2 separate regions of the Homo sapiens genome follow, and region 1 is linked to region 2. Evidence: fine-mapped expression QTL. Tissue or cell type: whole blood. Region 2 holds a variant in brackets; the other region holds the start of a gene. All regions are shown on one strand. Distances are between the middles of the regions.

The links. PIP is the estimated chance that this variant, and not a neighbour inherited with it, causes the effect.
Region 1: it holds the start of LDHA, and the variant in region 2 is fine-mapped to the expression of LDHA in whole blood (INTERVAL, PIP above 0.99).

Annotation. Positions count from the first base shown.
Region 1 is chr11:18,389,602-18,397,601 of GRCh38, forward strand. LDHA (lactate dehydrogenase A) reads left to right here and starts at 4,962. Exons shown (of 8, transcript NM_005566.4): 1 at 4,962-5,035; 2 at 7,218-7,367. The coding sequence starts at 7,242. RefSeq lists enhancers at 4,257-4,921, 4,568-4,657, 4,922-5,587, 4,968-5,057, 6,322-6,823 and a silencer at 5,818-5,867.
Region 2 is chr11:18,437,079-18,445,078 of GRCh38, forward strand. It overlaps LDHC (lactate dehydrogenase C), which reads left to right. Exons shown (of 8, transcript NM_017448.5): 6 at 1,450-1,567. Among named protein-coding and RNA genes, the nearest start is that of LDHAL6A, 15 kb to the right of the region's middle. The variant C/CAA (reference allele first, on the strand shown) is at 3,066.

The DNA.
Region 1 (8,000 bases), 47 kb before region 2:
GGAAAGAAAGTTTCCCAGTGGAAAAAAAGTTTATTTGCACTAGGAGCTTACAGTTCAGTGACAGAGACATATACAAATATGAATTAATTTATTTGGGAGGCTGAGGTAGGCAGATGGCTTGGGCCCAGGAGTTCAAGACGAGGCTGGACAACATGGAGAAACCCCGTCTCTACTAAAAATATAAAAATTAGCCGGGCATTGTGGTGCACACTTATAGTTACAGCTACTCAGGAGGCTGAGGTGGGAGGATCACCTGAGCCTGGGATGTGGAGGTTGCATACAGTGAGCTGAGATTGCACTGGGTCACAGAGGGAGACCCTGTCTCAAAAAAAAGGAATATATTGAGTGCTGGTTATGTGGGGCTCAGGTGGGTAGGGATGATGGCAAAGGAGAGGGCACTCAGAGTGAAGGAACTCCCTAGGTGGAAGGCTTGAGGTGAGAGAGTACATGGCACATTTGGAGAATGTGGTGCGTAGCCCTGGGACTGGTACATAGGAAGCATGAAGGAAAATAGATAAAACCAGAGAGGGGATGTGGGCGCTGGATCACAGGGGTTTGGCTGTGTCTTTCCAAAGTGTTTGGACTTTATTCTTGAGGCAATGAGGGGCCACCGAATGCTCTTAAGGAGGCGTATAATAAATACAAGATGAAGGAATGACTCAGCACTATGTTTTGGATGGACAGCATCCTGCAGCCAGGGCCATTTTAGGAAAATCTTACAGTGGGTGCTAAGCAGCATCTATTCTCTGAGGCCAGCTTGTCCCTTGGTTAAACCACCTCTTTATGGGATTTTCCCTTTAAAAAAATTTTACTGATACATAATAGTTGTACATATGCATGAGGTACATGTGACATTTTGATACAAGCATAAAATGTATAATGATCAAATCTGGGGAACTGGTATATCCATCACCTCAAATATTTGTGATTTCTTTGTGTTGGGCACATTCTGAATCTTCTAGCTATTTTGAAATATACAATAAGTTATTAACTATACTCGCCCTATCTAACTGTATTTTTGCACCCATTAACCAATCCCTCTTCATCCTTCATCCCCACTATCCTCCCCAACTTGTGGTAACCACCATTCTATTCACTACCTCCATAAGACCAAATTTTTTAGTTCCCACATGAGTGAGAACATGCGATGTTTGCCTTTCTGTGCCAGTTTATTTCACTTAACATAATGACCTCCAGTTCCATCCATGTTGCTGCAAATGACAGGATTTCATTCTGAAATAGCTGAATAGTATTTCACTGGGTATATACAGCACATTTTTTTCTTCTTTTTTTAAATTTTTTTTTTTGAGACAGGGTCTTGCTCTGGATTGCAGTGGTGACATCACAGTTCACTGCAGCCTGGACCTCCCTGGGTCAGGTGATCCTCCCACCTCAACCTCCTGGGTAGATGGGACTACAGGCATTTACCACCATCCTCAGCTAATTTTTTTTTTTGTATTTTTTGTAGATATGGGGGTTCACCATGTTGCCCAGGCTGGTCTTGAACTCCTGGGCTCAATCTGCCTGCCTCAGCCTTCCAAAGTGCTGGGATTACAGGCATGAGCCACCATGTCCAGCCCCTCTGCTTCCTGGGTTCAAGCAATTCTCCTGCTTCAGCCTCCCAAGTAGCTGGGGATTACAGGCATGTACCACCACGCCCGGCTAATTTTTTTATTTAGTAGAGATGGGGTTTCATCATGTTGGTCAGGCCGGTCTTGAACTCCTGACCTCAGGTAATCCGCCCACCTCGGCCTCCCAAAGTGCTGGGATTAGAGGCATGAGCCACTGCACCTGGCCAACACATTTTCTTTATCATCCATCCATTGATGACACTTAGATTGAGTTCATCCATACTTCAGCTATTGTGAATAGTGCTGCAATAGTCATGGGAGTGCAGATATCTGTTTGATATACTGATTTCGTTTCTTTTGGATATATACTCAGATTGCTGGATCATATGGAAGTTGCAGTTTTAGTTTTTTGAGGGGTCTCCATACTGTTTTCCATAGTGACTGTGCTAGGGGTTTTCCCTTTTGAAGAGGCCACATCCAAAGAACACTTGGTCAGATTAAGAATTCTGTTCTGTCCCCTGAAAGTGTTTTCTGACCTGTTCCAAGGGTTCCACATTCTTCTCTGGCTTTAGTACAGAAGTTCTACTGTTTGGATTGTATTAGTCAGGGTTCTATATTAGTCAGGGTTCTCCAGAGAAACAGAACCAATGGAAGAATATATATAAAGAGATTTATGAGGAGGAATTTACTTATGTGTTTATGCAGGCAGAGAAGTCCCATGATCTTGCCATCTGCAAGCTGGAGACTCAGGAAAGCTGGTGGTATAAATTCCAGTTCGAGCCCAAAGGCCTGAGAATCAGGAGAGCCAAGGGTCTAAGTCCCAGTCTAAGGGCAGAATACCAAGGTCTCAGCAGATACACCCATTGGCACCCACAGCCTCTTCTGAGCCTGGGACTGGTTTGGGCCCCCTAGATAATTTCTTGCCCTTTGTATGGAGTGATGTGGGACAACATCCTATAATAGAGAGAAAATCATAGGCTTTGGGGTTAGTCAGCACTGGGTTAAAGTCTCAGCCAAAATCACTTACTAGCTGCACTACCTTAGCAAAGTCACTTACCTTTCTGAGCCTTGGTTTCCATATCTGAAAAATGGGGATAATTATGCCTACTCCAAAGGATGAGTATGGGGATTACCTAGCTGGCTGCCAGCACCATAGCAGGTGCTCAGTAAATGGTATTTGTTTTATTCATATTTGTGGAGTCAAATACTGGCTGTTGTTCTGCCTAAGAAGCCTGAAGCTGTGCTTGGAGCAAGCTGTTGCTAGGTATCATAAATTAGGGGAATGAAGACTCTACCTAGTTTATCTTCACAGGTCATCTCAGAGTGCCCCAACCCAAGCCTTTCAGGTGAAAATTCTTCGTCTCCCCAGCCAACTTCAGCTCTCTGCCTTCTGCACACCTCTTCCCAGCAGCAGTGGTCACATTTGGTAGGCAGGCAGGGGCCCAGCCCTGACTGAGAACACTGTTGCAAAGACTGAGAAACCGGAAAACACTGTGGCAATCTGCCCTGCCCTGAGGTACTCTGAAGAATCAGTGGCCCACCCCTAAACTTTCCAGCTGTGTGTTTGAGGTGAGAGCCCCATTTCAGAACCTAGAGTGATCTTAGAATCTAGAGTGATGGGAAAACTGTTAGAACATGCAAGCATGCCCTGCTATTTTTTTTTTTTTTTTGAGACAGGGTCTCACTATGCTGCCCAGGCTAGTCTCGAACTCCTGGCCTCAAGCAGTCCTCCCACCTCAACCACATTGGTGCTGGGATTACAGGCATGAGTCACTGCACCTGGCCCCTTGTGCTATTTTGGAGCTGAGGTTAGAGTTTTCCGTCAAAACCAAGAAACTCAGTTATGGATCTATCTCAAAGCTGCACTGGGCTGCTGCTGTAGGTTCAGGGAGTAAGTAAAGCCATCCACCCCTTTGGGCTGAAAGTTCCAGCCCTCTAATTCCCTAATCATTTGGTCTTTCCCATGACTGGCTCCTTCCTGAGGCTATCTAAGACTCCTCATTCATTAACATTAAGTCAGGGAAAAAGGCTCTTTATAAATAACAAAAGACATTCCTATCAGAAAATTCAGGAAATTTTGGCATACTCAAGGGCTTACCAAATATATTTCATAATATACCCCACAGTGGGGAAGTATTGGTACAAATTAAAGAAGAGATGGAGGAGGGCGGGCTAGGCAATGGAATCAGCAAGAATACAGGCCCAGAGGTAAGTATGATAAGAAAACAAAAAATTGAGCTGGGCACGGTGGCTCACGCCTGTAATCCCAGCTCTTTGTGAGGCCGAGGCGGCCAGATCACTTGAGGCCAGGAGTTTGAGATCAGCCTGACCAACATGGTGAAACCCCGTCTCTACTAAAAATTACAAAAATTAGCCGGGCGTGGTGGCGCCTGGCTGTAATCCCATCTTCTCAGGAGGCTGAGGCAGGAGATTCGCTTGAACCCGGGAGGCGGAGGTTGCAGTGAGCCGAGATCAGCCCACTGCACTCCAGCCTGGGCGACAGAGCGACTCCGTTTCAAAAAAAAAAAAATTAATAATTAAAAAAAAAATCGCAGGGCAAGTGGGCGCGCTTGTAGTCCCAGTCACTTCGGGGAGCCGAGGTGGGAGGATCGCTTGAGCCAGAAGGTCGAGGCTGCAGGAAGCCATGATCACGCCACTGCCCTCCAGCCTGGGTGACAGAGTGAGACCCTGTCTCGAAAAATACCAAAAAACAAATAAACAAACAAAAAACCAAAACCAAAAAAACAAGCCACTGACAGTTCTTGGGTATGGTTGAGACTCGAGATGAGATGCCAGTGGGGTGGGCAGTAGAAAGTGCAGAATAAAATGTACATTTGAACTGAGTCACCCTGCAAGGCCTGAGAGGCCAAGGCTTCACTGTGAGTGGGAGCTGGTAGGCTTAGCAGCAGAGGGAAAAGCAGCGTCGAGTTTTGGAGGTCACTCGACTTAGGTAAGAACAGACTGACTGACTGCTAGGCATTTTCTTCCTTTCGTTCAACAAATATTTGTGGAGTGCCTATTACGTGCCAGAAGCTGTTCTGGACACTGAGAAACAGGGATGAAGAAGAAACAGATCCAAGCCTTCCTGAGAGTAACCTCCCCAGGTTTCATGGATGAGGAAACTGAAGGTCGTCCTGACTCAGGCTCATGGCTCCGACCCCGGCTTCTGTGGTTGGAGGGCAGCACCTTACTTAGACTCCCAGCGCACGTGGAGCAGTCTGCCGGTCGGTTGTCTGGCTGCGCGCGCCACCCGGGCCTCTCCAGTGCCCCGCCTGGCTCGGCATCCACCCCCAGCCCGACTCACACGTGGGTTCCCGCACGTCCGCCGGCCCCCCCCGCTGACGTCAGCATAGCTGTTCCACTTAAGGCCCCTCCCGCGCCCAGCTCAGAGTGCTGCAGCCGCTGCCGCCGATTCCGGATCTCATTGCCACGCGCCCCCGACGACCGCCCGACGTGCATTCCCGGTACGGTAGGGCCCTGCGCGCACGGCGCCAGAGGGATGGGCGGGTAGAGCCAACTGCCTCTGGTTCTGCTGGCCTCCGCTGCTCGCGAAGGGATTCCTGCTCCCGGGAGGTGTAGGAGCCGCTTTCCAGAAGCACAGCCCAGAGACGTCTGGGCGGCGGCCCACACAACGCATGTGTTCGGAGCTCGCCGCGCTCTGCTTTTGCTCTAAGCGGGAACCATGGCTTCTGGCCACGCTGGGGAACCGAGGAGGTGGCCGCACCCAAGCAGGGGTCGAAAGCCCGGGTGGATGCGGAACAAGGATATGATAGGCCTTAAGGGTGGGGGATACCTCTGGGCTCGAAATCGGCGGGCGGTGCAAAACTCGAGGTCCAGTTCTCGGAGCCCATAGAGCCAAAAAAGCCTCAGCTTGTCCGGGGCGGGTTCTTGAAAGACGGAAAGCGGCTGAGTACCACGCGGCTTGCATTTTTCTCTTGGGACGCTCGAGAGGTGGGCTCCGTGAGGGCAGCTGCTGCCTGCAGATTATAGGGAGCCCTTTGCGCATTTATTAAGAAGCTACTGGTGTATCTCGGGCTGCGCTAGGCACGGCGCATGCAAAGATGAAGCAGGCAGCATCCCAGCCCTTCCGCACCTCAGACGGTCAGTTGAGTAGGATCCGCCGGTACCAACTCCTCCTTTTAACAAATAGGGAGACCGAAAGCTAGGAGACAGTCAGGGATCTCTAAGTTCCCAGTGAGTAGGAGGCAGAGGTGAGGTGTAGAACTCGTTTTTGCATGTCTCTCGCCTCTAGACGCACCCTTCCCTCATCCCATGCCCTCCCACCTCCGCCCCTACATTAAAGGTAGCATTGGATCCCGGGGCCGTTCAGTGAAGCTAGCAGGTGTCCGCAGGAACTCCCTTCCCCCTGCCAGGCTAGAAACCTTACAAGGCTGTCTAGAAATAGCAGTGATTTGTAAGGAGAGACCCGGCTCCAGCTTGGTGACTCTGGGCTGACTGCCTGCCTAGAGGTCCTCTCGGATTTTTGCCCTTTGGAGTGGTGTCAAAACTAGACGTGATACTTTGGGGATGCAGCCTGTGATATTTCCTCCAGCGAATGCAGTGCAGGGTTGGATTAACAAGGTGGAAAGAATTCGAGGGTTCCACCAAGTAGCTATTAACTCTAGGGCTGCAGGCCTCAGGCCTTCTGCAGCTATTTCTACACTCCCTGTACTGAAACTATTTCTTCATACTGGGCCTGACAGGCCTTTGCAACAAGGATCACGGCCGAAGCCACACCGTGCGCCTCCCTCCCGGTTGGTTAACAGGCCCTGGTTTCTAGTATTGCGATTTAAAGTCTGGCGCTGGCTGCGCGCCAGACCTGGGAGGCTGCCAGCTAGGCTTCACGTTGCTGGCGTCTGCTTCGGGGCATTCATTAGGTCTGAAGTCTGAATCCCAGCTCCCTCCCTCTCACCCACTGAGCTGCATAGCTCCAGATTGCCTCTGCTTACGGGCGGGGCTTCTCAGCCTTCTGCCTTCTGGCCCGATGCCCGCTTCCCAACGGCCGGAGGCCGCTAGACTAATCGGCTTCGCCCTGCGCGCTGTAATGCGCATGCGCACGCGCACAAGTTCCTGGGCCCGCCCATCTTCCGGACTTGGGCGGGGCGTAAAAGCCGGGCGTTCGGAGGACCCAGCAATTAGTCTGATTTCCGCCCACCTTTCCGAGCGGGAAGGAGAGCCACAAAGCGCGCATGCGCGCGGATCACCGCAGGCTCCTGTGCCTTGGGCTTGAGCTTTGTGGCAGTTAATGGCTTTTCTGCACGTATCTCTGGTGTTTACTTGAGAAGCCTGGCTGTGTCCTTGCTGTAGGAGCCGGAGTAGCTCAGAGTGATCTTGTCTGAGGAAAGGCCAGCCCCACTTGGGGTTAATAAACCGCGATGGGTGAACCCTCAGGAGGCTATACTTACACCCAAACGTCGATATTCCTTTTCCACGCTAAGGTATGGGCCTTCACTCTTCACAGACCCTGTCATTAGGCCTTTCAACTCTCTTTTGGCAACCATTAGGTTTTTTCCCCTCCCTTTTTAGTCATCTCTAGTGATTTATAGTGGCAAATACCCCCAAAGGAAGTAAAATAGCTTAAAAAAATCTCTTGGTTAATAAACATTAAAGAAGCTGTAGTGACACTAAATGTTTTTCCTCCTATAGATTCCTTTTGGTTCCAAGTCCAATATGGCAACTCTAAAGGATCAGCTGATTTATAATCTTCTAAAGGAAGAACAGACCCCCCAGAATAAGATTACAGTTGTTGGGGTTGGTGCTGTTGGCATGGCCTGTGCCATCAGTATCTTAATGAAGGTAAGTGAGAGTCTACCACACTGGAAGCCCATACCTTGACCCCATCCTCTACCCCCACTCCTACCCCTAGAACTGTATTATTACATTTCATGTAACAGTATTTAGATTTATGCACTCATTCGGATAACTTTCTGTGAAACAAACTTTTGAAATATGATAATACACCAAAAGTGTATCTGAAATTAAAAAGAATCAAAGGTTGTCAGGCTGGAGACCCAGTTCCTAAAATTCATTATTCTGTATTAACATGCATGGATTGACTACCAATGAAAAGGAAGGGTCCATGATTTTAAATGAGCCAAAATTCTTTTAAAGTGATTTTTGAATTGAAAATGACAATTCAAAAATTGTCATTTATTGGTAAAATTATATGGGAAATCATAAGTTCTCCCACTCAAATCTCATTGCCCCTGTGCCTTGGATAGCAATTTTGTTATCAATTATGGAGCTAAAATTTAATTAGAAAAAAGAAATTGTGAGTAAAGCACTCCTTATTACACTATTGAAAGCTGATTTATATTTAAAAGAAATTGAGGCAGCTTACAACATTAAAATGTCTGAGGCGGGGCACAGTGGCTCATGCTTGTAATGCCAGCACTTTAGGAGGCTGAGGTGGGTGGATCACGAGGTCAG
Region 2 (8,000 bases):
CTGTTTTAGTCTCATCTTATTCTGGAATGACAGGTTAATTGGATGTGAGATTCTAGATTGACAGTTATTCCTCCTTGGCTCTTGTTTACTATTGAGAAGTATGGTATTAATTTGACATTCTTTTCCCTCTCATTGCTTATATTTTATCTTTCTTATCAGTCTTTTTCTTTGTTTATACTGCATTTTGCATATTGCTTAAAAATATGTATGTTGCTTAAAAATGCCTCCTATACCACACAATTATAAATAAATTCTACTACATATTTTCTAACAACCTTATAATTTTATTTCTTACATTTCCCTCTTTTATACATTTGAAACCTATTTTTATGTATGGTGTAAGGTGGTGTTTTAGGCCATTTTTGTGTTGCTGTAAAGAAATACCTGGCCAGGGCCGGGCACGGTGGCTCACGCCTATAATCCCAGCACTTTGGGAGGCTGAGGTGGACGGATCACGAGGTCAGGAGATTGAGACCATCCTGGCTAACACAGTGAAAACCCGTCTCTACTAAAAATACAAAAAATTAGCCAGGCGTGGTGGTGGGCACCTGTAGTCCCAGTGACTCGGGAGGCTGAGGCGGGAGAATGGCGTGAACCCGGGAGGTGGAGCTTGCAGTGAGCCGAGATCGCGCCACTGCACTCTAGCCTGGGCGACAGAGCAAGACTCCCTCTCAAAAAAAAAAAAAAAAGAAAAAGAAATACCTGGCCAGGAGTAGTGGCTCATGCCTGTAATCCCAGCACTTTTGGAGGCCAACGCGTGTGGATCACTTGAGGCCAGGAGTTTAAGACCAGCCTGGCCAACATAGCGAAACCCCATCTCTACTAAAAATACAAAAAAAAGCTGGGTGTGGTGGCACACACCTGTAATCCCAGCTGCTCGGGAGGCTGAAACAGAAGAATCCCTTGAACTTGGGAGGTGGAGGTTGCAGTGAGCTGAGATCAAGCCACTATGCTACAGCCTGAGTGAAAAAGAAAAAAAAAACAAAAGAAATACCTGAGGCTGAGTAATTTATAAAGAAAAGGGGTTTAATTTAGCTTGTGCTTCTGCAGGTTGTACAGGCATGGCTCCAAGATATGCTCTTGATGAGGACCTCAGGAAGCTTGCAATCATGGCAGAAGGCAAAGGAGGAGTAGATGTGTCACATAGTGAGGGCAGAAACGAGAGAGAGGAGGTGCCATATACTTTTAAACAACCAGATCTCACATGAACTTAGAGTGAAGACTCACTCTTCAACAGGAGATGATGCTAAGCTATTCATGAGGGATCTGCACCCATGATCAGACACTTCCCACCCCCAACACTAGCGGTTACATTTCAACATGAGATTTGGAGGAGACAAACATCTGAACCATATCAGGTGGCAACTTAACTTAAAAAAACAACACTGAACTCAAACTCCTGATGCCATATTGGGAAGAAGAGTTTATTTTGAGATCTGTATTTTTTAGTGCCCTTATGGAGTGGGGTGAATGTTGCTGGTGTTGCTCTGAAGACTCTGGACCCTAAATTAGGAACGGATTCAGATAAGGAACACTGGAAAAATATCCATAAACAAGTTATTCAAAGGTAATAGTACCTATTCAGTTTCTTAATGCCTTAATAGTCAGTCTTAAGAATAAATATCACGGACAAAAATCAAGTAGTTGATCCTTGCTTTTTGTGAGATAAATAACTCTAGGCTCCTGAAAACCACTAAATTCAGACTTATACATAGCTTTCTTTTTGGGGGCATTTTTCAAAAAGAAAAAGTACTTATTATTTCACAACTCATATATTTGAGAGTAATAAAAGCATAGTGATTATGAGCATGGACTTTGGACCCAGGTTGTCCAGGTTTGAAACCTGCTTCATCATTTATTAGTGATATGATATTGGGAAATTACTTAAAATATCAGAAGTTGTTTACTTATCTTCGAAATGGGGATAATTATAGAACCTACTTTACATAATAGCCTTATGGAGAGTAAATAAGTTAATACTACATGTAAAATGCTAGAACCATGCCAAGAACTTATTAAATGTTCATCATTTGAGTAGATGAAACATTAAGCTAATGCAGATGATCAGAAATCAATATGGTTTTCTTATAAATGAAGCATCTGACTCCATATATATTAGCCTTAACAGCACACAGGATTATTCTTCATGGTTTAGTCAAGAGTCAAGTTACATATTAGTAGAAGTTATAGAACTTAAAAATTGGCTGGGCGGGGTGGCTCACGCCTGTAATTCCAGCGCTTTGGGAGGCCAAGGCGGGTGGATCACCTGAGGTCAGCAGTTCGAGACCAGCCTGAACAACATGGTAAAACCCCATCTCTTCTAAAAATACAAAAATTAGCTCGGTGTGGTGATGGGCGCCTGTAATCCCAGGTACTTGGGAGGCTGAGGCAGGAGAATCACTGGAACCCAGGAGGCAGAGGTTGCAGTGAGCCAAGACAGCGCCATTGCACTCCAGCCTGGGCAACAAGAGTGAAACTCCATCTCAAAAAAAAAAAAAAAAAAAAAGAACTTAAAAATCACTTTTGGATATTCACAGCTTGGAATATTGAACTTAACAAAAACCACAAGTCTACTGTATGTATACTTAAAACAACCCTACAAAAATGTGTAAGAGGCCAGGCATGGTGGCTCACGCCTATAATCCCAATACTTTGGGAGGCCAAGGTGGGCAGATCACCTGAGGTCAGGAGTTCGAGACCAGCCTGGCCAACATGGTGAAAACCGTCTCTACTAAAAAAAAAAAAAAAAAAAAAAAAACAAAAATTAGCCAGCTGTGGTTGTGCGTGCCTGTAATCCCAGCTACTTGGGAGGCTGAGGCACAAGAATTGCTTGAACCTAGGAGGCAGAGGTTGCAGTGAGCCAATATTGTGCCAGTGCAATCCAGCCTGGGCAACAGAGCAAGACTCTGTCTCAGAAAAAAGATAAATAAATAAAATAATAGGCTGGGCGCAGTGGCTTATGCCTGTAATCCCAGCATTTTGGAAGGCCTAGGTGGGCTGATCATGAGGTCAGGAGATCAAGACCATCCTGGCCAATATGGTGAAACTCCGTCTCTACTAAAATA[C/CAA]AAAAAAAAAAAAAAAAAAAATTAGCCGGGTGTGGTGGTGTGCCCCTGTAATCCCAGCTACTCAGGAGGCTGCGGCAGGAGAATCGCCTGAACCTGGGAGGCGGAGGTTGCAGTGAGCCAAGATCACACCAGTGCACTCCAGCCTGGCAACAGAGCAAGACTCTGTTTCAAAGAAAACAAACAAATAAATAAATAAAATAAAATAATAAAACAAAAATGTGTAAGAATTAGGGCAGAGACTAAAAAGTCATAATATAACAAGTGATCATGGGTGAGTTTTTATTCTCTTAAATGCCTTTTAGTTTTAAAAGTTTATATTATTTTATTTTTGGTTATAAAAAGTAACATGGCAATGTGTATGAGTACAGAGCTACAGTTTGGGAAGATGAAAACATTTGAGAGAGGATAGTAGTAATGACTGCACAGCAGTGTTAATGCACTTAATGCCACTGAACTGTAATTGTTAAGATGATAAATTTTACCGTAGTTAAAAAAGCAGTTAAGGCTGGGTGCAGTGGCTCACATCTGTAATCCCAACCCTTTGGGAGGCTGAGGTAGGAGGATTGTTTGAGGCCAGGAGTTTCAGATCAGCTGGGGCAACAGAGTGAGATCATGTCTCCACAAAAAATTTTAAAAAATTAGCCAGGCATGGTGGTATGTCTGTAGTCCCAGCTACTGGGGTGGTTGAGGCAGGAAGATCACTTGAGCCCAGGCGTTTTAGGCTCAACTCAAACTCGCAGAGGTATGATCACACCACTGCACACTAGCCTGGACAGCAGAGAAAAATCCTGTCTCTAAAAAAATAAATAAATAAAATAAAATAAATTAAAAAATTAACTAGTTGTAGTGTTGCATACCTGTAGTCTTAGCTACCTGGGAGATTGAGATGGGAGGATTACTTGAGCCCAGGAATGCAAGATTGCAATGAACAACGATAGTCCACTGCATTCCAACCTGGGCAACAGAGTGAGACCTCATCTCTTAAAAAAAAAACAAAAAACAACAACAACAATATTAAAAGTATATAGCCACGAATTGTTGTCTGAAATTCAGACTGTCCGACTCACAGGACATAATAGGTTTTCACCTAGCATTAAGTTTATCTAGCATGGTGAAAGGATACCAGGAAGAAAACACAGTATAGCATATCAGTATCTTCTTTAGAAGGTATTTCTTTTCTTTTTTTTTTATTTGAGATGGGGTCTTGCTTTGTCGCCAGGCTGGAGTGCAGTGGTGTGGTCTCTGCACTCCGCCTCCCGGGTTCAAGCAATTCTCCTGCCTCAGCCTCCTGAGTAGCTGGGACTACAAGCACGCGCCACCATGCTCAGCTAATTTTTGTATTTTTAGTAGAAACGGGGTTTCACCATGTTGGCCAGGAGTCTTAATCTCTTGACCTCATGATCTGCCCACCTTGGCCTCCCAAAGTGCTGGGATTACAGGCATGAGCCACCACACCCGGCCCTTTAGAAGATATTTCAATGCGGCTGGGCGTGGTGGCTCATGCCTGTAATCCCAGCACTTTGGGAGGCTGAGGCGGTTAGATCACTTCTTAAGGTCAGGAGTTCAAGACCAGCCTGGCCCAACATGGTGAAACCCTGTCTCTACTAAAAATACAAAAATTAGCTGGGCTTGGTGGCGGGCGCCTGTAATCCCAGCTATTTGGGAGGCTGAGGCATCACTTGAACCCAGGAGGTGGAGGTTGCTGTGAGTTGAGGTTACGCCACTGCACTCCAGCATGGGCGACAGAGGGAGACTCCGTCTAAAAACAAAACAAAACAAAACAACAGTATTGCAATGCTTAGGTGTAGCTTCTAGGCCCTATCACTGCTTGGGGCACACTCAGTTACACAGAAGGAAGCTGACATGGGGGCAGACTTCCCCAGCACAGGAAAGCGGCTGCCTTTAGTTCTCAACAGTTTTGTTTTTTGTTTTTTTTTAACTGCAAAAGTGGGAAATTCTCAACAGTTCTTAATGCACTTCCTGTCACATAGCCCTCAGGGTCTGCATACTTGATCCCAGTACTGCTAGTCCTGATACAATGCACAAATCAATGGTTTCATAAAATCCAGTGCTGATAACCTAGTTCTATGATAGTTAATAGTCCACATTTATCTTAACTAATTTTTATATCTAGAAAACTATGTTGCCTGAACTCAAACTCAAGGTTATCTTCCCAGTTACTTCTGGCTTTTTCGAAAGGGCTCAAATCCACTGTTAACCCTTTACCCTTGGTACCTTTCCATGACCTCAGATTATTATCTTTGTATCATATATTCTTCAGAGTTCATTTGACAAACATTTCTTCAATATTTTATAAATAGAAAAGACAAGTTAGTACATCTACAACCACTAGACTCTATAAGACACAGTAGGTAAACAGAATCCTTCACAATGTTTTGGTAATTCTTAACCAACTAGACTGTTTTTTTCCCCCCTCTATCATTTACTATCACTTGCGTCTTATTAAAGGTATTGATACACGCATTCAATCACATGTTTTATCTCTTTCTCTCTCTCTTTTTTTTTTTTTTTTTTTTGAGACAGAGTCTTGCTCTGTTGCCCAGGCTGGAGTGCAGTGGGGCAATTTTGGCTCACTGCAACCTCCGCCTCCTGGGTTCAAGCGATTCTCATGCCTCGGCCTCTTGAGTAGCTGGGACTACAGGAGTGTACCACCACACCTGGCTAGTTTTTATATTTTTAGTACAGATGGGGTTTCACCATGTTGGTCAAACTGGTCTCCAACTCCTGACCTCAGGTGATCTGCCCGCCTCAGCCTCCTGAAGCCACCACGCAGTTTTTATATTTCTAAAGCAAATGTATTTCTTTTTTTGGCCAAACTATTTCCATAAGTATCACATCAATTGAAAGTTTTAGGTCAATTTACCAAAATATCTTTTACTTTGAAAATCATTATTGGTATGTTTTATTTTCTTAAATTCTCTTAAGGGAACCTACAAATGCTTTGTTTCACCAAAAAGCTTTGAATGAGAGGTTAAATTAATCCCTAGAAAACACAATATGTATTAATATTACAGTATCTTTTCCTGTCCTTCTCAACAAAACTGTCCCTTATGCCCATATATTTTCAGCTATAGGGGCCAGGAGACCAGTCTCCAATAAATGCAGGGATCTAACTGGTCTGGAGGCACATCCATACCCCCCACCCACTAAGGAACTTGTTTTAACCGATAGCGGTTTCCAAGTGTTATGGAGCAGCCCATCTACCTCCCATAGGGCTGTCACAGTGTTGGTCTTTATCTACCCAGTCACTAATAATTGTACCACAGAGAATGGTAGTTCTTTCTTTTCTTTCTTTCTTTTTTTTTTTTTTTTTGAGACACAGTCTGGCTCTGTCATCCAGGCTGGAGTGTAGTGGCATGATCTTGGCTTACTGCAACCTCTGACTCCCAGGCTCAAGCCATCCTCACACCTCAGCCTCCTGAGTAGCTAGGAATACAGGTGCATGCCACCATGCCTGGCCACTTTTTGTATTTTTGGTAGTGATGGGGTTTCACCATGTTGCCCAGGCTGGTCTCAAACTCCTGAGCTAAAGCAATCTGCCCACCTTGGCCTCCCAAAGTGTTGGGATTACAGGTGTGAGCCACTGTACTCGGGCAGTTCCTTTTTAATTTGAGACACTTGCTTTAAGGGAACAAGGATTAAGATCACATTTCCCATTGAAGTCCTGTGTGATTTGAATACCAAATATTCCAATGTGTTTCAGATCAGTACTTATCACTATTGGTCCTCTCAACTCTGCAGTATCTAAAATTAAATTATTTGCCTCTTGATCATTTAGCAGAGGATCTATAATTATAAATAATCCTCAGGGTGCTGCTAATATTTATCTAAAAACTACTCAGCTCTTTTTACACAACAGCTTCTGATTTGCTGTTGTCTAACCACCAATTGCAGAGGAATGACATCATGATTTAATAGGATGTCCTTACTTGTTCCCAAGAGGGCATTTGGTTTACAATGTGTATCAGTTTTTGTCTTAAAGTACCATCCTTGAAACTATTTCTTCTATTTGCTCCCTTTACCCTTTCTTTTACACCAGCAATTTTATTTTCATCAGGATGGTTAATAACAACTAAAGGATTATGTTTTTAGCTATTCTCAACTTTCTTCTGTTTCTCAATCTATTTTATTAATACCTGAGAGGATAAATCTGTCATCCAGATTCAACTGGTGAGATTTGTCCCCAGTAATCTACTGTAGAGCTTTCTTTTCTTCAACTCATAGACAGTATGCTGTCAATCAAGTGCCAGGCAGACCCTCTTTCCCTTTCCTTTTACTTACCCCCGGAGTCTTGGCCGTACAGAATTGAGGGTCTAAAAGTACTTTTGTCATCAAAAGTATTGCATGGCCTCTGATAGTGGCCCTGATTTTGGACTGATAGTCAAATCATAGGACACTACTGTAGGAACAGTCCAGGCCCAACCTGCTGTGTTCAGGTGGTATATATATATATATATATATATATATATATATATATATATATATGCCTTATCTTGGCAACCAAGTGTGTTATGTGCATTCTTGGGGCTTTAAAACGGGGTAGTTGTAAGACCTCCTGATATGAATGATATATGCTGGACAGTCTTTGCTTCTTGTCCTGTATCCTTTCTAAAAGTTAAATAAACTTAGTGCTAAATTAAACCCTCTTTGTCCAGTGAAGTTGACTGTCAATCCAAACCTGAGACCACTATTTGTAGCAATGCAAATATATAATAAATATTAATTGTAGGAAATAAGGAAATTCAGACAGGCATAAAGAAGACTCACCTGTAAGCCTGTCTTGTAAAAATAATCACTATTAATAACTTGGTAGGTTGATGCAGCTCTAAAGTTTGTATAAAAATTTATATTTTTTACAAGCCAGAGATAAGAAAATGCATAATGTTTAGTATTGTGCTATTTTCCTTTGAAAAT